Regions from separate parts of the Homo sapiens genome. Here regions 2 and 3 are each linked to region 1. Evidence: fine-mapped expression QTL. A gene starts in region 1. Each other region holds a variant in brackets. All regions are shown on one strand. Distances are from middle to middle.

Region 1 (8,183 bases):
GCCACACATACCCAGGTCTGTCTGATCCCATAGTCTTATAATGATCTCCAGGATGTCACAGTCTTGGTGACATCCATGTAAGCAGAAATGAACCCCAGGAACAAAGCTGGCCTCTGGCAAAATTCTGCTCATAGACAATCTTGTTTTAAGATCTCCTTCTGCACCTTAGCCCTCTCAGCAGGGTCCCGTCCTTTCTTCTTTCCTCCTTCCTGCTCCTGTATTCTCAGGAGCCCTCTGATAACAAAGTCATCAAAGAAAGACCTCTAAAAAAATTAATTCCCCCTGAAGTGTTAATGACTTAAAAATCAGAGCACTTATATGTGTTTGGAAGAGGCACGAAGAGAGAAGATAATGAATCTCTGATGAATTTCCAGCAGTTCTGCAAGAAGTGGAAAAGATATGTGGGCTAAGGGTAATGGATAGATTTTTGAATACATCATACGCTGGCAATTGCCTACTCATAAAATCAGCAAGAAAGAAATGAAAATGATTGTTTCATAATACTTTAAAATAGCACCCCACCACCCCTGCCATGAAGGCGGCAGGAAGGAGAGGACATTGTTGTTCTGATTTTAGAGATAAGAAATCAAAACCCAGAGAAGCCACTTTGAGCCACAGATCAAGCCCAAATGGACAGAACTGAACCCAAGGCTGAACTGTGCCTCCTTCCAGCTGCTGGCTCCTGCTGGCTTCCTTCTAAGCTCCCCTCACTCACCTCCACCCTGCCTGTTAGTCTCCAGCTAAGCTGTCTTTTGAAGGTAGGCAGGGTAGTCTCCCGCTAAGCTATGTTTTGAAGGTCTGCTTGGGAAGCAGAGGCAGTAGAGGGAAATGTGTGTCTGTTTTTTAAGGAATAATTCATACACAGTCCTTCTCTCAAATAGCTCGAGGCACTTTTCTGAGATGCACTGCGGGAAGAGAACAGAGTGACCAGATCCTCAGAGCATCAATAATGCAAAGCAGCTTCTTTTAACTAAGGGGTTGTCAATTTGACTTCCCCTAGATCAGTAAGGGATCAAAAGTCACCAGTGGCTAATAGACCTTATTTGAGCAGAGGATGCAGTTTCAGCCCAATCCCCGCTAACGGCCAGCCACATCAAACGGCCACCTTGGTGCTTTGGTGTTCTTTCACTTGCCCTTTGATCAGCTGCAGCTGTAACCACACAGCGTCCCACAGGGGACTCAGAACCTAACTGGATGATTCTTACTGGTGAAAGCTGGTGGAGTCTGAGCTGCTACAGGGTGAATCACTCATGCTCAGAGGTTTCTGCAAACCAACTTTGGGAAGCCCAAATCTAACTACATTTACTATTTCAAATATTAAGACAGGTACCTTCAACCTGTGTGCCAATTCACTCAGTCGACATGTGTTTGTCACCAAGCACCGGGAGACATCCTCCCAACCAAATCCCCTCTTCCTTCACACCCATGGAAGTATCTCTTTTTTGTCAAAGTCTCCTGGAGAGATCATTCCATGGTGACCTCTCCTCTCTTGTCTTTCCTCCCACAAATAATAACGGGGCCTCAGCTGGCCTTGAATTGTTCTGTGATGGCTTTCCCATTATTAGCCCTGTCTTCTCCACTCTATCAGGCCACAGACAACAAGAACAACATGGCATAGAATGCTTCCTTTACATTTCCCTCTGTCTAGCCCAGGGCTGAGCTCAGTAAATATTGACGCATAGGTTGAAAATAGAAAGAGAGTGCATTTATTTTGTAAGGGAGAAGGAAGCAACATTTATTGGTAGCTTCAGAGGAAAGAGGAAGGACTTCATTTTCTTTTTTTTACTTACAATTGCAAATGAATCAATGTGTGCTCCACAGAGCAAGGATTTTGTCTGTTTTATTTACTGCTGTGTGACCAAGACTAGAATACTATCCAATAGATAATAAAGAACCAACGCTGTGGAAAGAATGAACACATTTATCAGCCTACTCCTGCACATTTTCTGAGCACTATCTAGGATTGTAATGACTTGGGGTGGAATGGGGGAAATGAGGAGGAAAATAAACCTTTGGTTTCCCCCAACTTCCTTCTGGAGCACATTTTCCATTTTTCTTTTTTTATTATTATTTTTTTTTGAGACGGAGTCTCGCTCTGTCACCCAGGCTGGAGTGCAGTGGTGCGATCTCGGCTCACTCCAACCTCCGCCTCCCAGGTTCAAGCAATTCTCCTGCCTCAGCCTCCGGAGTAGCTGGGACTACGGGCATGTGCCACCACGCCTGGCTAATTTTTTGTATTTTTAGTAGAGACAGGGTTTCACTGTGTTAGCCAGGATGGTCTCCATCTCCTGACCTCATGATCTGCCCGCCTTGGCTTCCCAAAGTGCTGGGATTACAGATGTGAGCCACAATGCCTGGCCTCATTTTTCTAATTTAAAGAAAACCAGTTGTAAAGTGGAGACTTACTCTCCTTGGCCCACCCACCTTAAGCAGCAACTGGATTTGATAAAAATTTTTGTAAAATAAATAACTAGATTCCCAAGGCATTAAAAAATAGCCACTGAAAAAATCATATGATGAAATGTTCTTGGGTCTCACAACACATCCCACTAGTTCCAGTGCCATGATCAGGGCCAGGGGCATGGCAAGCCCTCCATGAAGGTTTGCTCACCTAAGTGAACCCGGCTCCAAGAATCAAAGAGGACTTGGGATAGTGGAAATGGGTCTGGGCCTCAGCCTCAGCACATCTTATGGTAGCCAATAATCTTCTGCTCAGATGAAGACATACGCTAGTATTTTGTTCTTTCAGGAAGTGTCTCTTGAGACTTTTTTCACTAATTAGTAAGGCAAGTAATAGATGGTCCCCAACTCCCTATCTCCCACTCCATTATCAACAAAGTGGGTTATTCTCTATGAGTATGATGTGCAACTTTGATTCTCTGCCTAATAAATGCCCTTTACTGCCAAATAAATGTTAAATAATCAGCCATCAATTCCACAGAGACCATCAAAGTGAAAAACATTAGATGTCAACGTTCCCAGAATCACCACATCTGGGAGAGAAGTCCTGTTAATATGCAGTTTGACAAGTGCAATCAGGACATTCTGCCACGTGTTCAGATCCAACCCAGAGCTGGGAGGCATGGGTTCTAGGTGACTGGGCCCCTGCAGAGCTGCCAGCACTCTGCTGTCTGCAATGAGAATAAAAAGGAATAGAAGAGAAAAGAGACCAGGTGCAGTGGCTCACACCTGTAATCCCAACACTTTGGGGTGCCAAGGCAGGTGGAATCTGTGAGCTCCAGGAGTTTGAGACCAACCTGAACAATGTAGTGAAAACCCATATCTACACAAAATACAAAAATCAGCTCAGTGTGGTGGCAGGTGCCTGTAGTCCCAGCTACTGGGGAGGCTGAGACGGGAGGATCGCTGGAGCCCTGGGAATGAGCCAAGATTGTGCCACTGCACTCCAGCCTGGGCAACAGAGTGAAACCCTTGTCTCAAAAAAGAAAAAAAAAAGAGAGAGAGAGAGAGAAAAGATCCCCGTTTGTCATCATCACTCTGGGCACTCCAAAGTGAGGTCTCCTGTGTCTGGATGTAATTTTTGGATATTTTCTAATCAGCACAAATTAAACAAAAGGAATAGAAAGAGGGAAGTAAAAATGCCAATACCTTCCCACACCAACAAAACTAAATGAAATACCCACGTGTCCTGGGTCCACGATCTCCAACCAATACCTGGCTTCAGTGCAAACAAGACTGACAATATGTTGCAGGTGGATTCAGGTAATTTAAGATTACTGTTTAAACCGAGGATCCATGGGAGGAAGAAAACAGAAACAAAACCCGAAACACCCACTGATACATTTCAGACTTAAACAACATAAGAACTTGGCACAGGTAATGCCAAGTTATGGTTTCAACACACTATGTACATCTTTAGCATACTGGAGGTGTTTTCTTTAAATACATGCCAGGGAGTTCACACTCAGGGAACTAGGCACGGATTTTCTGATTCTTTTCCACCTACACAGATAGGCCCTTGACCTAAGAGGATCCCGTCCAAGATTACAACATATATTACTATTGTCACTATTACTAATGTCATTCAGATCCATCTTGTATGTTAGCAAAATGGTCAGATAATAGAGATTGGTGTAGGAATTCAACCATCTCCCTGGCATCTGTATTTCAGAAGCCCCCAAAAGTTATAACTTCCTGAAATACCAAACCTGAGAGTCTCGCTGGTCCAGGTTGGGATTGAGGCTGAGGATAGCAAGGGCAACCAAAGAGCCCTAGAGTTCTCAGGGGGCCGCCGAGGTCCCCCGGAAGCCACAATGCTGGGCCTTGGGCCCGGGCCAGCAGAGGGGATTGCGGCCTCGGCCGCGCCCTGGCCCCCTGCCCCATCCCCGCGCAGCCTGAGCCGTCGGGGCCCGGCCAGGGGTGGACCGGGCGGTACTCACCGCAGGTTGCGGTCGACCATGTCCCACCAGGCGGCCACGCAGCTACGGGCTGGGGGCCCGGGCGGCTCGGGCGATGCGGCCGCCTGGCAGTCCTGCGCGTCCATCCCGCGCCGTGTCCCGATACGCCGCCACCGCCGCGGGAGCTGCAGTCCGGAGCAGCCGCCCGCGACCTTCCCGCCCCGGCGGCACCGCGCCCGCCCTCCTCCTCCGCGCGGTCAGGCAGGCTGGTACGGCGGGGGAGACGCGGCCCGAGGGTGCGCTCCGCCCGGGTCAGGCTGTTCGCGGCCACACACACACACACAGATGTCCTAAGCTTATAGCTAGCTATGCTACATTTTATTTTAAATTGATTTCCATTATACTTCTGTGTGTGTGTGGGTGTGAGGCGCGCGCAACGCAGTAAAATATGTTTTCACCATGGTACTACTAACACAAAAGTTTGACCGCCACAGCTTTTGATTTTCATGAAGAATATAAGCTTTCCTCTACTTAAACCTCACTTTTTTCTTTTTCTCTTTTTCTGAAGCCTCCTTGTCTCCAATTCCCCATCCACCCCCAAAATCCTCACAGCCCCCCACCCTGTCACCCTTACTATAGAAAGAATTTCTTTGGCTCCCTTTGATTTACTAATGATTTGTCTGTCCACGTGGGGTTATGAACACAATTACTCCATGTAGCAAAAAATTAAGACCTTTTCGGTATTTTGTTTACGTAGCAGCATGTAGCAGAACCTCATCATTGTACCAAGGAGTTCACACCTTGAAACTTTGACCTTGGTACAGGTTTACATCTTGGTGCAGGTTTACATTGTGCAACTGTCTCCTAGGAGCAGGAACTGTCTACCAGAGCTACTCTAGGGAAGCCACGGCCTGCATGTGTGGGGACAAAGGAGGAAGAAAGGGAATTAGGTTTTATTTGGATACATTCGGATGCCAGCATCAAGGCTTCATCTTGGAGGCAAGGTGCAAATCTTAAGAGGTGAAATGGGTTTTTTGTAGTGTCTGTGTTCAGAGGGCACAGCAGGGGGCTGTCAGCACCAGAAAGTGCGTGGAAACCCATCTGCTTGAGGATAGTAAGATGGTCTGGGGGAAAATACCCACACTTTTCAAGAAAGGGAAGTTTTCTTTGAGTACTAGCTCATTTCATGGAACTGTCAGGGCAAAGGGGGATTTTGTTCACTGCCTGTTAATACTCTTATACTTGCTCTGGGAATGTTTGTTTTCTTTGTTTCTTTCTCTTTCCTTCCTTCCTTTCTTTCTTTCTTTCTTTCTTTCTTTCTTTCTTTCTTTCTTTCTCTTTCTTTCTTTCTTTCTTTCTTTCTTTCTTTCTTTCTTTCTTTCTTTCTTTCTTTCTTTCTTTCTTTCTTTCTTGTCATGGTCTTACCCTGTCACTGAGGCTGGAGTGCAGTGGTGCAATCATAGCTCACTGTACTTGAACTCACTTGAACTCCTGGACTCAAGCAATCCTTCCACTCCAGCCTCCCAAGTAGCTGGGACTACAAGCATGCACCACTATGCCTGGTGCGCGCGCGCACGCACGCTTGTGTGTATAGAGATGAGATCTCACTATGTTGCCCAGGCTGCTATCAAACTCCTGGCCTCAAGCAATTCTCCCACTTCGGCCTCCCAAAGTGCTGGGATTACAGGTCTCTGTCACCACACCTGGCTGGAATGTTCAGTTTCTGATTCACACACATCAAGATAGAAGAGGAATTAGCTCAGAAAGGACCAATGGGATCCAAGCCTGACTGATGAGCCAGCAGCAGGTGGGTTTTCACAGAGCCACAACCTGCATGATGAGAAAGCTTCAAGCAGATGTCGGCTCTACCCTTGGAGTTCTTCATAAACGTGGTCTGGAATCTCCCAGAACTTGTTCAGGGAAGCTCTGGATGGGACTCTGGGGCCATGCCAAGTGGAGATGGAGGGATCAAAGATGGGGAGGAGAGCTTGGAGGAGAGAAGAACAGCTGCATATGGTCCCAGAGTCTATTTCCATCTACTTGCTCAGGTTGAGAGAGGATATTTCCATCTACTTGCTGGATGAACAAAGTTGTAAGCCCCAAGTCTAGGGATATGTTTGAAATGCTCAGCAAAAATCTCTGAAATTGGAAATCACTATGGCCCATTTTTTGAAAGGTTGCATAAGACTCTGCAAGAAGGTCTTTCCCAGTATAAATAGCCCCTTTCAAATGGCACATCCTGGAAATCAGGGAACAAAGTCTCCCATATGATTTGATAGAACCTGAAAAACAAAATATGCATTCATTTATTCAGCACCCATTTACTGAGCACCTTTTAGGTACCAGGTACCACATTGGGCACCGTAGGGATACAAATCAGGATCCCAGCTGGTAGAGATTCATTTCAGGATGAACCATGAGAACACAGAACAGGAAATGAAAAGTGTCTTAAGGGTAGAGATTAAATCAGGGGATAGCAGGGGCTGGAGGTGGGGAGGGGAGGTTGACTACAAAGGGGTGCGAAGGGACATTTTAGAGTGATGGGAATAGTCAACATCTCAAGTGTGGTGGTGGTTACTATAAATATCCACCAATGCATATAACTCACAGGTGAATTTGACTGAATATGAATTATACCTCAACAAACCTGACTTTTGAAAAGTGACCTAAGAAATGTACAGATAAACTATATAAATGAACATGTCCTATGTCATGTTGTATAAATGTTAAGACAAAGCTGATGGTACAAATACATCAGAAACCAACAGTTGAATGTTATTTGCACTAGCAGAAAAATAAATCTTGATTGGAGACAGATTAATTTGACCACCTAAAATTATTCTGGAAAAACAGGGAATGGGGAATAAGACTGACCACCTCTCAGCTGCTGTACAGCTGTGAAGGTAAACTGCTGGTAATAAGGCAGTTGGGTGTTGAAGACCTAGATATCTTGAAAAGAAAGTATGCATCCCCCTTGTGTTTTCTTTTATTTTAAATAAAGCATTATGAGACATAAAATTCACACACTATAAATTCACTATTTTAAAGTATACAACTCAGTAATTTTAGTATATTCTCAGAGTTGTGCATCTATCACTATTATTTACAATAACTTTAGAACATTTTTATCACAGCCCCCCAGAGAAATCCTATACCCATTAGCACTCACCATTCCTCCCTTCACCTGCCCTAAGCAATCACTAATCTACTTTCTGGCTCTGTGCATTTGCCTATTCTGGACATTTCATATAAATGAATTAAACAATATGTTGCATTTTGTGTCTGGCTTCTTTAACTCAGTATAGTGTTTTCAAGGTTCATCCATGTGCTATCTCAGTGAATACTTCATTCGTTTTGGTGGCTGAATAATATTTTTTTGTATGGATATACCACATTGTGCTTATCCACTCATCAGTTGGTGGACATTTGGGTTGTTTCTACCTTTTGTCTATTGTAAATAATGTTGTTATAAATATTTGCATACAAGTTTTTGTGTGGACTTACGTTTTCATATCTCTTTATTGTACAACTAGGAGTGAAATTGCTAGGTCATATAGGTAACTCTATGTTTAATTTTTTGAGGAACTGCCAAATTGTTTTCCAAAGTGGCTACCCCATTATACAATCCCACCAACATAAGCACCATGTACCTTTTTTACCCTTTCTCAGCTTTCCGTGCACAGGTAGGAATTTTTTTTAATCTAATATTGTTGAGATTGAAATAAACCATTAAAGGGAAGTTTGAGTCCAGTCCCAGACGATAGGGAAAGAATGATGTAACTAACTCACTCAGAATATTTATTTTTCTATGTTGTTAGTTTTAGA
Region 2 (8,183 bases), 33 kb before region 1:
CTTGCAGTCATTCCAGCCACAGATCTGTCAGAGCAGATTTCCACTGCAGGCACCGAAGCCTCGGGGACAGGCAATATGAAGTTCATGCTAAATGGGGCCCTAACTATCGGGACCATGGATGGGGCCAATGTGGAAATGGCAGAAGAAGCTGGGGAAGAGAACCTGTTCATCTTTGGCATGAGGATAGATGATGTGGCTGCTTTGGACAAGAAAGGGTAAGAGAATAGCTTCTCTTTGCTAGGCAGGACTGCCCCTCCCCCCTAGAAGGTATGTGACCTCAGAGGGCTTCCTGCCCACACCGATATCCCACTGAAATTGGATCACATAAGAGGTGGCAGCAGAACATCTCCCACGATGAGGCAGGAGAGCCTCCTGGCCACAGATTAATATTATTAAACCCAGCAAATAAAAGTACAGACACATGGAGGAGTTGCTATTTGTTATCGGCCATTGCAGAGCTGGCCTCAAAGAGCTATTTTTCCTCCGTATGTATGATTTTTACTTTGATCAAAAGATGAACCAGTTTCTAGTTGGAAGGGTTGCCTATAATTTAAATCATGATCTAGTGCTCCTTTAAGATATCAAAGAAATGCACTAAAATGTGATAGAGAATAGATACGGGTGTACAGAAGTAATTGGAAACATTTATTTTCACTTCATATCTGGATGGGTTTATTAACCTGAGTTCAAGCACAAAATAAAGAGTACTGCCCAAAGAAGTAACATTTGGAGGATGTTGAATATACTTCCTGACCCTTGGAAGTCAGTTTCACTCAGTAGCAACAACTTTTGAGAATCTGTGGATCCAAAAAGCAACTGATCTACTTAATACAATGTTCATTTAAAGCCATAAAGTCTGCTTTGAAATGGACCTTGCTGTATTCTACCACATCAGACTCTTGATGTTTGACTAGAGTTTTCATTATCTATTGTTCTTAGTGTCTTTGGTTATAAGGAATCAAATTTACAGGAAGAAAAACTTACAGATCTAGTTAAAAGTTATATATACTCATGGTGAAATCTATAATGAAGTCTTTGAATGCTAGTATTTCTGAATGTATTTTTTCACAGTGAATGCAGTGTCTAGTGTGTTGTTAATCACACAACACAATAACAGAGCCTTTTTTTATCACCCACCCACCCCTACCCCACAGGTACGAGGCAAAAGAATACTATGAGGCACTTCCAGAGCTGAAGCTGGTCATTGATCAAATTGACAATGGCTTTTTTTCTCCCAAGCAGCCTGACCTCTTCAAAGATATCATCAACATGCTATTTTATCATGACAGGTGAGTTCCCATAAGAAGATGGTGCTATTTGGATCATGAAAGGGGGACAAGAAAATCTTAAACCAACCAACTCTAAAACCAACAAGAAAATCTTAAACCAATCTTAAACCAACTTAAACCCACTCATGTAGATTAGCATAGATTAGCGTGATCTGCTCAGGTAGTTTAGGCTTGGGGAAAAAGTTAGATATTCTCCACCAGCGATGCCAGTAAGGTTTAAGAATAACACACACAAATCTGGTTCTCTTTTTCTCCTTCCACTGATATTCCCAACTTCCAAATGCATCCCAGTGATGACATTCTCACATGTGAGAACCATAAGAAGGTTGAGGGCTGGTTAAAAGTCTTACAAACAGAAATATGAATTTGGTAAACCAGCCATGCCTGATATTAAGCAAAAGATGATTTTACATGGAATTTTAGCATATATCTATTAATGAAGATTTTGACTGTTTTTTTCCTCTTCCACTCACAAAATAAAAGGTTTAAAGTCTTTGCAGACTACGAAGCCTATGTCAAGTGTCAAGATAAAGTGAGTCAGCTGTACATGGTGAGTAAATTGCCAAGATTTATAAAGAAAACCAGTTTACTATGATTCATTAAAATGTGGGTTTTTTAATTAAATGCAAATATCAGATCCCCATGTAATATCAGATCCCCATTAAGCAATCAAAAAAAAAACAACAAAAACAAACAAACAACCACAACAAAAAAAAAAACCTTGTCTTTTCCCAAGTTCAGGCCAAGGTTGAGATTTGACATTTCAGCAGGAGTTGTAATTTTTTTTTTTTTTTTTTTTTGAGACAGATCTCGCTCTGTCACTCAGACGGGAGTGCAGCGGCGTGATCCTGACTCACTGCAACCTTCACCTCTCGGCCTCCCAAGTAGCTGGGATTATAGGCACGTGCCACCACACTTAGCTAATTTTTGTATTTTTAGTGGAGATGGAGTTTCACCGTGTTGGCCAGGCTGGTCTAGAACTCCTGACCTCAGGTGATTCACCCGCCTCTGCCTCCCAAAGTGCTGGGATTACAGGTGTGAGCCACCATGCCCAGCCAGTTGTAAATTTTTTAATATCCAAGTTTTTTAAAAGTCACAAATAATTCAATATTTTTTGAGCACCCACTCTGTAGCAGACATGTCCTGGAAGCTAAGGAAATAAAGCCTCAGAGGGGCATTAGGCGTCTTTTTTATGCCGGGCACTGTGCTGGCACTGAGAACACAGCATGAGCAAAGTTGAGGTCTCTCCCTCCCTCCCCTCCCTCAAGGAGCCTGTTTGAACATCGAGATTCTTAACCAGAGGTACACATCAGAATCACCAAGGTAGCTTCATCATAGTACAGATGCCAGCCCCCGCACTGAGAGATTCTTTCCCAGTAATGGGTGGGGTCATCAGTATTTGAGAAACCTGCCATGATGATTCTAAGGCTAAAACATGGTTTTTTAAGATAAGGACTGACCCCTATTCTCTGAAAATTGCAAAATAGGTACCTCTTCTGGACTTCTCATGGAGGGGGCTGTATCAATAGAATATAAATTCGTAGAAAGAGAAAGGTGTTCATAATTGAATTTTTAAAAAAAGAAAGAAGAATAAGGAAGACAATACTATACTGAGGGGAAAAAAAAGGGATGGGTAGAGCCATGTGAATAAGCCTCTGCATGCAAAGTTATACGCTTTATCAAACAACTCTCTAGCTGTGTTTTGTAAATATGTAAAAAGGTTGATCATCTCTGATAGGAGAGACTTTTAGTGAATTTCAGATACCCTAGAGGAATGGATACTGGAGGGGGCTAGCTCTGTGCCAAGACTCCAGGGTGGGTTTTACTAACATTTCTTTCTACTCCTTTCCCAAGGCAGATAAAAGGGTAGTTCCTACTGTCATCCTAAATGTCCCACTGGGATTTTAAAAAGGATCATTCAACGCCTGTGCTGCTTTACAGCCCTTATCTTCTAATAGAATAATGGCCAGTCCCCCAGTGGCATATAGACCAGAATAAGTTCAAGTTAATGGCTACAAACAAGCAGGGCAGTGCTAGAGCTAAGCTCAGGGGCTCACTACCTGCTTCCTGTACATTGGAGAGAAAAGCCATATACAGGCCGCAAGAATGCAAAGACACAGGGAAGAGAACGGCCACCTCAAGACAGATCAATAAAACAGCACAGGAAAGAAAAATATGAACAAGGGCAAGGACAAATGTGAATGTCTCCTCTGTTAAAATTATGGCCCAAATCCAAACGATGCTCATCTAGAAACCCAGCATTTGATTCGGTCTTTCTTGTTCATTAGTGCTAATTGCAGCTTTTTACTCTTAACAATGATTGTATTGTTGAGACTTAGTAAACATGACCCATATGACTGGGAA[G/A]TCTATTCATTATCCATTTAAATAGTTAAAGAAAATGAAGAGAGAAAGCTTTTATCCTCCTCTTATTACAGGAAGCTTCCAAAGTCTGAATAAACAAATTTCAGATGCTGTTTTGCTGTACCTTAAGGAATGATGGTAGTTTTAGTCTTTCTCGTAAGCATTTATAATGCATTGATAACATTTTTGAATAATGTTCTGTTCACTTCCAATACACTTTTAGAGTTCCTTACAAAATTAAGAGGCTATAAAATAAATTCCTTCTTATCATATTCTTTTATATAAAAATTATGAGATTTTGATATATTTTTATTAAGGATAAAGACTCAATTGACCCTGTTTTGAAGCCCCAGTGGAGTGTTTGGGACTCAGTGTAAGCCTACTAGGGTGCGTATCTTCAGAAAGAACAAGAAAAGCTAAGTAGGTCAATAAAGCCTCTCATTGAATTGTTTGCCTGCATTATAGCTAACATTTTAGAGTAGTGTTTTTCAAACTCTATGAGCCATAGGATAAGTCTCTTGACATGGCATTTAGCAGACAATGGATTCCTCCCCTATAGTTTAAAGGGAAGCATCTTCATTCATAAGAAAGCATGGGAAATATGGCTTACATGCCAAAACATTGTAACCATAGCAGGAATTGCCAACTAGGCAATGTACATCCATGGTTTCTCTTAGAGTGAAAAATACCTTTTTTTCATTCCTAAGAGAATTATACTCTAAATATGAGAAAAGTGCATTCTATTCTACCTCTCAACAGACAAACAAGAATATTTGTAATTTACTATAATTTATTCCTGTCATTTTCCCTCATGAAATGTGTTTGGATGTGCTTGGCTGATGTTTATTATAAAGCTCACTGCGCACTGGGACTCTGGGCTGTATATGCATATGTTGTTTACAGAATCCAAAGGCCTGGAACACAATGGTACTCAAAAACATAGCTGCCTCGGGGAAATTCTCCAGTGACCGAACAATTAAAGAATATGCCCAAAACATCTGGAACGTGGAACCTTCAGATCTAAAGATTTCTCTATCCAATGAATCTAACAAAGTCAATGGAAATTGAACTCTAGAATTGTCTCTAGAAAACATAGCTTCTTACTGAACTTGAACATTTTTACAACATTCACTGGTTTTTGTTTTGTTAGCTAATAATCTATAATAGTTGAGTATCTCTGGGAATGGGGAGGGAAATTATATGTAATAGAGCTTAAAAATAAAGTGTCAATTTCCAAGGGCTACATGAGTGCCAAAACTTATTTTATAGCAAATCTAGTGATGCTTTGCTACTGCTAGGATTTACCCCAAAACTAGTCATAAAATTAGAAAACTGCTTAGAACTTTCAAATGCCATTTAAATGAACTAAACTAAAATACAAAAAACTTAACTATGTAGAAGCAACTTTCTTACACTGCTATCTGAGTCCAAACCAAAGACCAATGTCTTAGTCCCTGTGGGCCACTAAAACAAAATGGCATAAACTGGGTAGCTTATAAACAACAGAAATTTATTTCTCACAGTTCTGGGGGCTGGGAAGTCCAAGAGCAAGGCACTGGCTGATTCAGTGTCTGATGAGGGCTACTTTGTGGTTCATAGATGAAGGCTTCTCACTGTATCCTCAAATGGTAGGAGGAGTGAAGAGCTCTTTTGGTCATAATTTATAAGGGCACTAATCTCATTCATCAGAGCTCAGTCCCACCTCCTATTACCATCACACTGGTGATTAGGTTTCAGCATAATTTGGGGGGGCAGGCCCAGATATTCGGACCATAGCAACTACCTTATTCACAAATATCCACAGAATGTTTAATAACTACATATTTTTAGATAGGATCTAGATTTTACCAAATTCTGGTTCTCCACAGTGAGGTTTCAGCATGTTTTACAAAGTAGATTATGATAAGCTAAATAAGAACATTCCATACTGCCTAACATTCGTACTTTCTGTTGTTAAAATGGCAAGTGATTTGTAGAGAAGTCAATGGCCTCAGCTCATCCGACCAGCCCAGTACAATTTTACATTAGAACAATATACATCACAGGTGGTGTTTGGGCCAAGTCTTCATTGAAGATTTCCACTCCTCCCAGACTCATGACCACTGCTTGCTCAGGAAATCTCTGTAGAAAAAGGACCCAGATCAGCTCACACCCTTTCCCTACCTAAATAAGCAAAATATTATACATTTTCATGTTGTGGCCTAAGTAAGCCAGAGCAGCCCTAATTGCCTTGAAGGGCAACATACATTTAGCAAAGCAACTCTTACCTCACGGTTATTAACAGTGTGGGGCTTTTACAAAGCAGGTTGTGTTGGAAGCCAGGAGGAAAGATAACCATCTTGACCCTCTCTTTGTTCCTGTATGCATTGCGTGCAATTTCATAGAGCTGCAAGCGACAGAAAGAGACTCAAAGGATGGCCATTCAAAGCTGTAGATTTTTCTAGTCCAATTTCCCTAAAAGTGTACAGAAACAGCTAACTTGGGGAGTTTGTTCCATTAAGTCAGAGACAGAAAACTCTCCATGTCCCAGTTGCCTGTCTCTACAGCTAAAGATCTGAATGCTGCTCAGCTAATATAGAATACTGATAAAACCTCATCCTTCCCTGCTTGAACCTCCCTGCAAAATGCCAAGGAATTGTTATGGACCCACTCTAGTAGAAGTTTGTTTAAAAGGAAAAAGTCTGCGTCTTCCATTTTAGAGCCACTACAGTAGAGACGACATGGAGGTTCCCACAGCAGCCTGGGATACCCTACACTTGCAGCTCCACACAATCCAGATGAGGAGCCAGGCTCTGCCACAAACACTCCTTTGAGCTAAGTAGCCAAGGATGCTGATACCCATTTTATAAACCTATAGAGGCTATTTAGGGGTGTAGAGAATCTCCTATAATGTCAGAGACCCTCCTTTCGGCTCTAATCAAAGTTTGGCTGAATGAAAAAAATGGTGAAATGAGTATAGTATATTTCAGTCAGCATTGAGCCCTTAGTTTACCTTTTTCCCATACTCCAAAGGCACTGTCCTGTCATCCTCTCCATGTAAGATGAGAAGAGGAGAAGAAAGGAATTTAACACTAGGGACAAGTAGAAGAAAAGCATTCAGTTAAAGAATGATACATTGAGATTTCTCCTCTTCTAAGTTAAAGCTTTAGCAAAACATGAGGCCTGTCTAAATTACAAGAAATTTCTTTCCTTCCTTCCAAGGAATAACAATATCATACATTTAAAAATTTCACATAGTAGCTTTTTTTCTCCATGCAAGTTTCCCTCTCTCCCATTTACTCATGCAATTTAACTGGCTGTTTAATTAATTTACTTCTGCATGATTTTTGGAAATACTAAAAAAAAAAAACAAAAAACACTGAAACACTGATTTTGTACAGTGTTAGAAGAACCTTATATTCTTCTTTACTCCACCTATTTTGTAACATCTGAAATATTTTATTAAAAGACTAAAAAAGAAAACAAAACTCAAAACCTCAATAAAACAAAAACTATGACAGAATCAGAGACCTCTTTGTAGCAATTTGTTTACTTTTCTCCATAAATGTAGAGGATGGACGTGCAGTTAACAGGTCTGATTAGCTTCCTGGTCAACCCCCTAGTTTGCTAATTCAAAAGGGCTATGGCATGAAGAATGTCTTGTCTCCCACTCTAGTTACTTTCTCAAGCAATGCTTCCCTGTCCCCCCAAAATTCTGATACCCATCCATCTCTGCCACAGTGACTCACTGACACCCCTGAGAATGTTGGATTTTCTCAAGTGTGTTGACATAGAAAAATATATTGACAACTGTCTATTTGGAAGCATTCTTAAATTCTCTAACTGTAACAGGCTAACTTGATAAATTCTAGTCATTGGATTTGCTGTCACATTAGTAAGGTGGATGGTAGACGAGTTTTCATTATATGGGGAAAAGGGCCTAGAAGTCAGAGATGCCTCAAGAAATGTTAGGCTGGTTTTTTGTTTGTTTGTTTGTTTTACAGGATGTCACTCTGTCACACAGGCTGGAGTGCAGTGGCACAATCACAGTTGACTGCAACCTCAACCTCCCAGGCTCAAGTGATCCTCCTACTTCAGCCTCACGTGTAGTTGGGATGACAGGCACGTGCCCCCACGCCTGGCTAATTTTAAAATTTTTTGGTAGAGATGGTGTCTCCCTGTGTTGCCCGGGCTGGTTTCAAACTTCTGGGCTCAAGCTATCCTCTCACTTCAGCCTCCCAAAGTGCTAGGATTATAGGCATACGCTAACACTACCAAGCCCTTTAAAAGGTCTTGATAGGCTATAGATATACAACTTCGTTTATGAATTCAGAGAGAGTACTGAATTGGTGAAGTCATTGAATTAGACATGAGGAAAATAGCAAATACTAAAAATTCATAGATACTTTACCCAAATCTTAGTGCCCATCTAAGAAGCGCAGAACAATATTCTAAGAATAAGAATGATATTCAGGATGTCTCATGTCACCATCCAGTAAGTCACATGATAGTTGCCCCTAGAATCCTTTAGATACAGTAATAATGCATGTCTTT
Region 3 (8,183 bases), 100 kb before region 1:
TCACTTGTGCTTTCATTGTTAAACCTGTGAAGTAGCAAGAGGCAATTTGTAAACCTGTCTTTTAATGACTATGTACAGTCTGTATCCTGCATGCAAGAGGAAATGAATGACACAAATTCCTGTGCTCTGCTGAGATGAGGACGAAGTTCAATATTGCTAGATCTCAAAAAAATGGGAAAGACAAATCTGATCGTCCATTTTTAATGGCATTTTGTGAAACCATCAATTGAAGCATAAGACACAATTCTTTGTAAAATGGCATTTGTATGCAGGTTCTTTAAAATCACTACATCTCAGAGTATAATTATTTCACTGTACAGAGAAGAAGCCTCTTCTTCAGTGCTGTCATTTCACAGACAGCCTCCAAGTTCTTAATTCAAATGCAACAAGCCAAAAAACTGCTATCCTTCTGGAATGAGTTTTTCTGTTTAATGGATAACATAAGGCCCCAAATCCAATTTCTCATGCATGTGGTTTAGGTGCAACAAAAGTGCTTCTTATTTTGACTTTCAAATTAAGTCACTTTGTATTTAATGATATTTAATTCACACCATTTATACAAAGTGTGCAATATTCCTAGAGTCAGAGCTCTGATAGCCCAAAGGCGACTTTTTCCTAGTCTTTAATGTTTGGTTTTCTACTGCTGTGACTCAGTGGTAGAGACCCTAATGAATGAGTTCACTCTCAGCAACAGCAGAGCAACTCACAAGGGCAGATATCTCCCCCTAGGAAGTGAAAATTGATGGTGGCAGGGAGGGAGCAAAAAATCATACTCTTGTTATGTATAAAACACAGATATACACACAGTACCAACAGGTATACAGTATATCTGCGGTATTAAAATTTATGTGCAAGGGATGATTAGGGAAACGGTTTTGGGGTAGTGATGATTATAAACAGGTTGCAAGACACTGGTTTCACCACACAAAAGGGGGGAGCTTCTAGAGTGACCACAAGGAAATGAACCCCAATTTTTCTCTTTTCCTACAGAACTGAGGGAGGGATCACAAAAGGGGCCACAATTGGGGTCCTCCTCGACTTAAATAGAAAAAACTTGACATTTTTTATCAACGATGAACAACAAGGTCCCATAGCATTTGATAACGTGGAGGGCCTCTTCTTCCCTGCGGTCAGCCTGAACAGGAACGTGCAGGTAAGCACCCTGCCCCTGAGGTTAAACAGCTGTTGCTGGCTACCGGTTCAAAGGCTGCCCAGGGCCGTTCAATCCAACCGAAGAGAGGGAAGCTGACAGCGTAAGGCCCAGACCAAGATATGAAGGAGAGGAGGAGAGAAAGGGATCAGCACTGGCAACTTATTTTATTCCACGCCAAGCATAAGCACCTTCTTTATACTTGGACGCAGACTAGTTAATAGCACATAGGAAACTAGAATTCTCTTCATGGTTGGCTAATGATCATCTCTGTAGCTCTAGTTTCACCTCTAAATAGAAACGAAAGCCTTTAACCAACTGGCATGAAAACAAATAGAATGACTTAACAAAGCTCAGGAGTGCCTGAGAAGAGGTGAGGGTGTAAGACTGAAGCATTAGTATCATTATCAGAAAATCTGAGCATCTTCTCTGCACTCTTGTTTGGCTCTGTTAGGTCCTAAGGGGTAGAAAACATAGTCCCTACCTACAACTTAGTCAATTATTATTTATTATAGAATAAAACAACAGCTTCTCATTTATTCATTCAGCAAATATCTATAGAATGCCTTTAATGTGCCAGGCACAGTTATAAGTGTCTGGGATACATCAGTGAAAAAAAAAAACAAAAAAACAGATAAAAATCTTGCCTTCATAGAACTTACATCTTAGTGATAGGAGACAGACAATAAATAATAAGCATAATTACAATGTTAATCAGATGGTGTGTCAGAAGGTGTTTAGTGCAGTGGAGAAAAGACCAAGGGCCCATGAGTGGTGTGGTTGGGAAGGGCAGCCACAGTATTGCGTAGGTAGGGCTTATCGCAGTTACCGGTGAGCTGAGCCTTAAAGGAGTGAGGGAGTGAGTTGCGTGGAGCCTTCCAGACAGAGGGAACAGCCTGTGCACAGTTTCTAAGGCATGAGGGGCCTTGCATGGGCAAGGAATGGTGGAGAGACTCTTGGGCTGGGGCCTGGAAGGGGGACCAGAGCCATGCATGGGGGAAGAGCTGTGCCCTGCCAGCCGCTGTCAGGACTTAGGGTTTCACTTCCCTCCTGAGCTGGGCATCTCATTAACAACTATGAGCCTCATTCCACAAATGGTTGTCTTGAGATAAGGCTTGAGAATTACAGGTGACTTTTGCCCTATCCAGAACCAGCCTTGGAAACTATTTATCAAAATTCATTGTTGTGTTTCAGTATGTGCAGTAACATTGATTGCAAACTAGCAGCCCCTGCCCTTCTCCCTGCAAGGAGATGGGGTTTTCTAGAAGGCTGGAATCTAATCTTTCAGAGTTCAGCCTCTACACTTTAAGAAAGAAAACCATAAATTACCCTAGAAGCGAGTCTCAGAAAAACCCCATTCAAGGTTTTTCACATTAGCCATTTCCCTTTCAAAGAATATTATACTAGATGCTCTTCAGGGGTTTTCAGGACCTTCTGATTATCTATTGATAAAGACTCTTGGGCTGGAGAAGACAGGGATAAGAACTGCATGAAATGGTTCTAGTTTTATCCATAGCTATCCATTGAGGTTTGGGGATACACGGAAATTGGTAAAATAGTATAATGCCATGTTTTTTCACAACTGGCAATCATCTATGCGACCCCAGAAAGAAATGTTTGCCCTAATTACAATAACTAGTGGACAAGTAATAAGGGAAGTGCTGTCTCTGCGAATCTGTCCTCTATCCATGGATTTGGCAGTGGTCACTGTGGTGTGGCCAGTAGGCTCCTCTATCTGAAAACCAAGGCCTGTGTCTTCAGTTATAAGGAACACAATCTCCCCGGAATCCTTTAAAAGAGGCAGGTGACTAAGAACCATATAATCAAATGTCACCAGGATTTGAGAGCCCACCATGGTGAGCAGCCTGTTACCATAGGCAGGATTCTTCTTGAATTCCGTTTAATGCCTGCTAGCCTAGATGTTTAAAGCGAAGCAAACAGAACACTTTTTGAGTTAGGGACACACCCACGGTACACTGTGTAAAGGGACAGGGGGATGCACGATGCCTCTCAGGACTCACAGTCTCATTCCCCAGGTCACGCTGCACACCGGGCTCCCAGTCCCCGACTTCTACTCCAGCAGAGCATCAATAGCCTAAGGATGTGCCGTGGAGGCGCCAGCTGCCTGTTCTTACCTCC[G/A]CCTGCGAGAGCCACAGCAAGGAGCTCAGCCAGCCGTGGTGGGGTGCAGAGTTGGCAGGAGTGGGAGAAGGAGGAGAGAAAAGCTGGTCCTCTGCAGTCTTTACACCCACAGCTCTGCCCTTTTCCCTTTCAACCTCTCCTCCGCTGTCATGCCTGCTTCCGCTTCCATGTCCAACAATTCTAACCAACAAAGGACCTAGACAGCCCACCAAGTCACTTGGTTCCCACTCCCAGATTTTGCTTTTATTTAACTTAATTTTTTATGTAGGTGAGTTATATTTTCTTTCTTTTCTGATCAGGTTATTGGTGACTTACTGGACTGGCACCGCCAGGAGAAAATTCTCCTGCTAACTTTTTTTCTTAAGCTTTCTGTCAAACAATGAGGTTGTAGGGGGAGGTAGGGAAGAATGAGCTGAATTTGTAGCATACAGCTTACCTGCTAGAATGTTCTTACCCTCTTACCTCTCCTGTAGCGTTAGCTCTGCAGAGCTAAGCTTTGGGAGAATGAATCTATCACTGAGAAGTTTTACTACTCATTGAAGCACAAAAATATCCGCTACACAGGTTCACATCAGGGTAGGATCGTTAGGATGGCTCTATAATTAGGATAGGCCAGAACCCTGGCCACTGTATAAAATTGGAAAGTCTCTAAGACACAGGCAAACCAGGGGACTTAATGATTTGGTTCGTTTATTTAATAAAAGCTTTTAATTGAGAACCTACTATTGACCAGGCACTGTTCAAGACACTAGAACATTATGTTCTAGACACTGTGGGGACACAGTGGTGAACAGACAGGCATGGTCTCTGCCCTTCGGAGCTTATATTCCAGTAGGAGAAAAAGCAAAAATAAAATAATTATAAATGGTCATATGTACTAGAAAGGAAATGGGCAAGGGTCAAAGAGACTCATGGGCAAGATCTTTCAGGCTTCCTAGAATGATGCTAAAAATCCACACATTCTGGCCATAGCACCAGAAATGTACCAACTCAATGCCTTTTCAGCTGCACTATTTAATTATGGTACCTGCTGCCACTCATCACAGAGCCCTTCTTGGTAGAAATGATGTCAGCATTCTTATTTGCTGATGCTGCTATGATACCACGCCTTAAAAATTGACAGTTGAAAAAAAAAAGAGTGACCAGAGGGCAAAGGACCCATTCTCAGTAATGGGAGATCTTGAGTTGCAGTCCACAGCATTCACATTCTCAGGATAAACATGCTTGTCTCCATATATACTATCTGTGCCTGTTATGAATGAAAAATCCATCCACTCTGCTGCCATTCACAGCCTAATTTTCTGGAGTAGTCCAAACAATGTTTGGAAAAACATGGGACTGTATGTCATTACTATGACTGATAGCAGAATAATAATGCATCTTACTTCTATATAGAGATAGACTTACATAGGTTACCCTTGAAATTCATTAGTTTGTCATAAAGTTTTAGGAAAGGTAGGACCCGGAAAGAAGTTCTAATTAGTTGTCTAAATATTTTTCAGTGAGCCAAGAAATTCACCATGAAAAAACAAGAATAACAAATAGAAGGGAAGAGATAGGATGGGAAAGCTAACAAATTAAAGTTTTGGCAAAAAGGAATATATGTAAATAGCTAATTATTTACTTTTGTGCTTACTTTATTTAGATTATTTCTATCAGTTACAATCTTTTTCTAGTTAAGTGTACCTAATTTATGGAATGGGTGCTATCCTGTTTATGTGTGTCTTGGTTTTTCTTGGCTACAGAAAAACTGTTGCAGGGCAACACTAGTTTGATATTTGATTTACTCTCCAATGAGACTCAATGGCTGGGCCGTGGTAGACTCATAGTTCCTCTTGTTCTTTATTAAATTCATCCTGCTAATTAGATTTCTAGTGACTTGTAACATGTAGTTTACACTGAATTGCAATTACAGATGCATACAACTACTATACTAGAAAAAATTGTCATTTCTGATGTGCCAATAAATGATTTTTATGAGAGAATAAAATGTCTCTAGAATTTCTTAGTTTTTATCTATTGCGGATGACAATTCACCTTTGTCAGAGCGATGTTTCTTCAGGAAGATCTCATTGGAAAGGCCCCCAGAGCTCTGGAGAGCATGTGTTCTTTCCCCTGTTTCCTTGGGCATGTGGCACTGCCTTTTGGTTTTACTCATATGAAATTTAACCTGATGTGAAATGTCCAGTGGAGATGTCTGGGGTCTGCTTCCAAGTATTGGGGATTTACTTCTGTTTTTTTTTTTTTTTTTTAGACGGAATCTCACTCTGTCACCAGGCTGGAGTGCAGTGGCGCAATGTTGGCCCAGTGCAATCTCCCCTCCTGGGTTCAAGCAATTCTCCTGCCTCAGCCTCCCGGGTAGCTGGGACTACAGGCACACACCACCACGCCCAGCTAATTTTTTTGTATTTTTATTAGAGACGGGGTTTCACCATGTTGGCCAGGATGGTCTTGATCTCTTGACCTTGTGATCCACCCGTCTCGGCCTCCCAAAGTGCTGGGATTACAGGCGTGAGCCTGGCCTACTTTATTTTTAAAAAGCCACACATTTGGCTTGCAATTTTATAGTACTGCAAAACAGAGTGTCACTGACTTTTTCAAACCTAGCTCCTTTAACATTTCTTTGAATGGCAAAACAATAATTACAACATTATTCATCTACCTAACATTGTTGTTAGCCACTAAAAAAACACTTTGTTTCTTGATTAAAGGAAAAACATTACCTACAAATATATGGTCTGAGTTATAACCTCACAGAGTGGAATAGTACACAGTTGGTAGCTGCTGCTGCTCTCCGTTGATTCCAGTTTCTACACATTCCTCTTTCTGTCACGGGATCCTTGGGGTGTCACTTCTCCAGCCAAAAACCTCTGTGGCTGGCAGCGCCTTCTGCCTGAGTACTGCCTGCACCTACTGGGCTCATTCTGCCCACTCGGCCTGGCAGGCTGCACTCGGCTCACACTACCAGCCTGGATCCCACACCTGCTAAGGGTGAGTCAGGTGTGGAGTGGCAAGGGGTGTGTGGGCAAGTGAGCTCTGGGTCTGGCCACTGCACACAGCCAGGCAGGCCAGCTGCTGTGGCAGGGCAGGCAGCTCCAGGCACCAGCAAAGTTGTTGGCTCTGTAAGAGGCTATGGCTGGACCAGATGTACTGCACACAGCTTCCACTACAGGAACATGCATCTGGCTGAAGGGTATGTGGTGGCACCCGGAAGCTTGGAGATACCAGGAACCACAGAGCCCCAAAGAGGGTGTCACAGCCCTGGCTCCAGGAGCCCCTAGGTATGGGCTCCCAGAAGGGCCACAGCTCTTCTCTCCTTCTCATCACCTGCAACATGGTGAGCTGAGGGTGGTGGCTGAGGGTTTCAGCCCTGTTTGTGTTACAGCTCTTTCAGTCCCACCATTCAGCAGGTCCCAAGTTCTTGTCCTGTATCCAGGAAGAGTGAGGTACCTGCACAACTGGAGGGTGAGCAAGGCAGAGAGGAGCTTCATTGAGTGACAGAACAGCTCTCAGGAGACCTGAAGTGGGTAGCTCCCTCCACAGACAGGTCACCTTGATGTCTGTGCAGACCCCAGCAGAGAGGAGACCCAGAGTGGGTAACTCCTTCCTGCAGCTGGTAGTGTCGACGTCTGGCTGAGCACAGGGTTTTCATGGGCTCAGAAGGAAGGAAGTGTGTACTGAATGATCCATAGGCAGGCATGGATGGGCCTGGAAACAGCATCATCAGTTCTCACTCTGGGCCACGGACTCACCCCAGAACTGGCAGCCTGGCCCCCAGGCTTCAGGCCATCCCTGGCTTGAAGGTAGGGGTTTCACCAGGGACCTGCCCTTTTCTGTCCAGGAGCATGACTTCCTCCTGCCACCATCAACATGCCTTCCACAGTACCGAGGATGTTTGTGCTGAGGGGTGCCTGCAGGCCTGCACTGGGCTATCTTCGGCTCCACCTCGGCCTCCCTCCCATGCTCATCAGCACCCAAAGTCCAGAGGGGGCTGAGGTGGCAGAAGGCTGGTGTGACAGTGCTGTCCCAAGCACACACACACCTGGGGGGTTTCCGACAGCGCCCAGGCTTGACCACAACTTTGCTCCACCCTGGAGGGGGCACCAGGAGCAGGGAGAGGCCAAGGAGCGGGAGCAGGTACTTCTGAGCCTACGGGGGGAGGGGAGCTTCCCAGGCCCCCAAGAGCGCAGGGATGCCCAAGTCCAGAGTTATGGCTGGGCTGCCGCAGCTGCGCCTGGGATTTTGGGGCTTTGGCCCTGCCAACTCAGTAGGGAGCAGGGCTCTCGCCTGTTCCCGGCCCCTACTGGCTCCGTTGAGCAGACAGCCCCAGGCTCACCTTGCCCCCTGCAGCCAGAGTCTTTGCAGCAGTGGCTCCAGATGGGCCGCTGGTGCCATCATTTCCACTACCATGTTACTTTTTTCTTCCTCCTCTGTTGGTCCCATCTCTGTTCTGGTTTTCTGCTCTTCTGTTTACTACCTAATGGAACGCATTGCTTATGTTTTACTCTTCTCGTGGTACTGAAGTTAATGGAACTTGTAATTCCTCATATTTCCTTATAGGAGTGAATAAGTGATTTGCAAGAAATCATTTTATTTTCTAGAAATGAGGTCCCTTTATTCCTCCCTCTGCTGTAGGCATTAATCTTTTGCCTATCTATTCAACTCACTGAGAAGAAAGGAGGGCTTGCTATTGAATCCAGATTTCTGATTATGAATCAATGGAACTATAATAAACAAACAAATTCTCTGGTCACACTACCTTATGATTTATGTGAACACACTAAAGACACCTGTATGTATTTCTCAAAATATGTGCTAGCTATTTCCACTAAGGCTGATGTTTAGGGAAGCGTGGATCTGACATAATACATCACATACAACTGAGGCGACCTAA

Alleles and levels. Positions count from the first base shown, and alleles are read on the strand shown. Sizes are in standard deviations (SD) of each study's normalised expression. Not every link is listed here.
As copies of A replace G in region 3, the expression in cerebellum of the gene that starts at base 4,626 in region 1 goes up (large effect, 1.2 SD a copy in GTEx).

The links.
Region 2: its variant is fine-mapped to the expression of ABHD12B in substantia nigra (GTEx, PIP above 0.99).
Region 3: its variant is fine-mapped to the expression of ABHD12B in cerebellum (GTEx, PIP above 0.99).

Annotation. Positions count from the first base shown.
Region 1 is chr14:50,868,496-50,876,678 of GRCh38, reverse strand. It overlaps ABHD12B (abhydrolase domain containing 12B), which reads right to left and starts at 4,626. Exons shown (of 13, transcript NM_001206673.2): 1 at 4,401-4,626. The coding sequence starts at 4,504. RefSeq lists a silencer at 1,094-1,143.
Region 2 is chr14:50,901,927-50,910,109 of GRCh38, reverse strand. ABHD12B (abhydrolase domain containing 12B) reads right to left here. Exons shown (of 13, transcript NM_001206673.2): 11 at 6,643-6,721; 12 at 5,918-6,036; 13 at 5,140-5,771. The coding sequence ends at 5,744. PYGL (glycogen phosphorylase L) reads left to right here. Exons shown (of 20, transcript NM_002863.5): 17 at 8-215; 18 at 1,155-1,289; 19 at 1,773-1,839; 20 at 4,554-4,893. The coding sequence ends at 4,718. Among named protein-coding and RNA genes, the nearest start is that of ABHD12B, 34 kb to the right of the region's middle. The variant G/A (reference allele first, on the strand shown) is at 3,654.
Region 3 is chr14:50,972,357-50,980,539 of GRCh38, reverse strand. TRIM9 (tripartite motif containing 9) reads left to right here. Exons shown (of 13, transcript NM_001387360.1): 12 at 991-1,153; 13 at 3,187-5,274. The coding sequence ends at 3,249. Among named protein-coding and RNA genes, the nearest start is that of PYGL, 32 kb to the right of the region's middle. The variant G/A (reference allele first, on the strand shown) is at 3,290.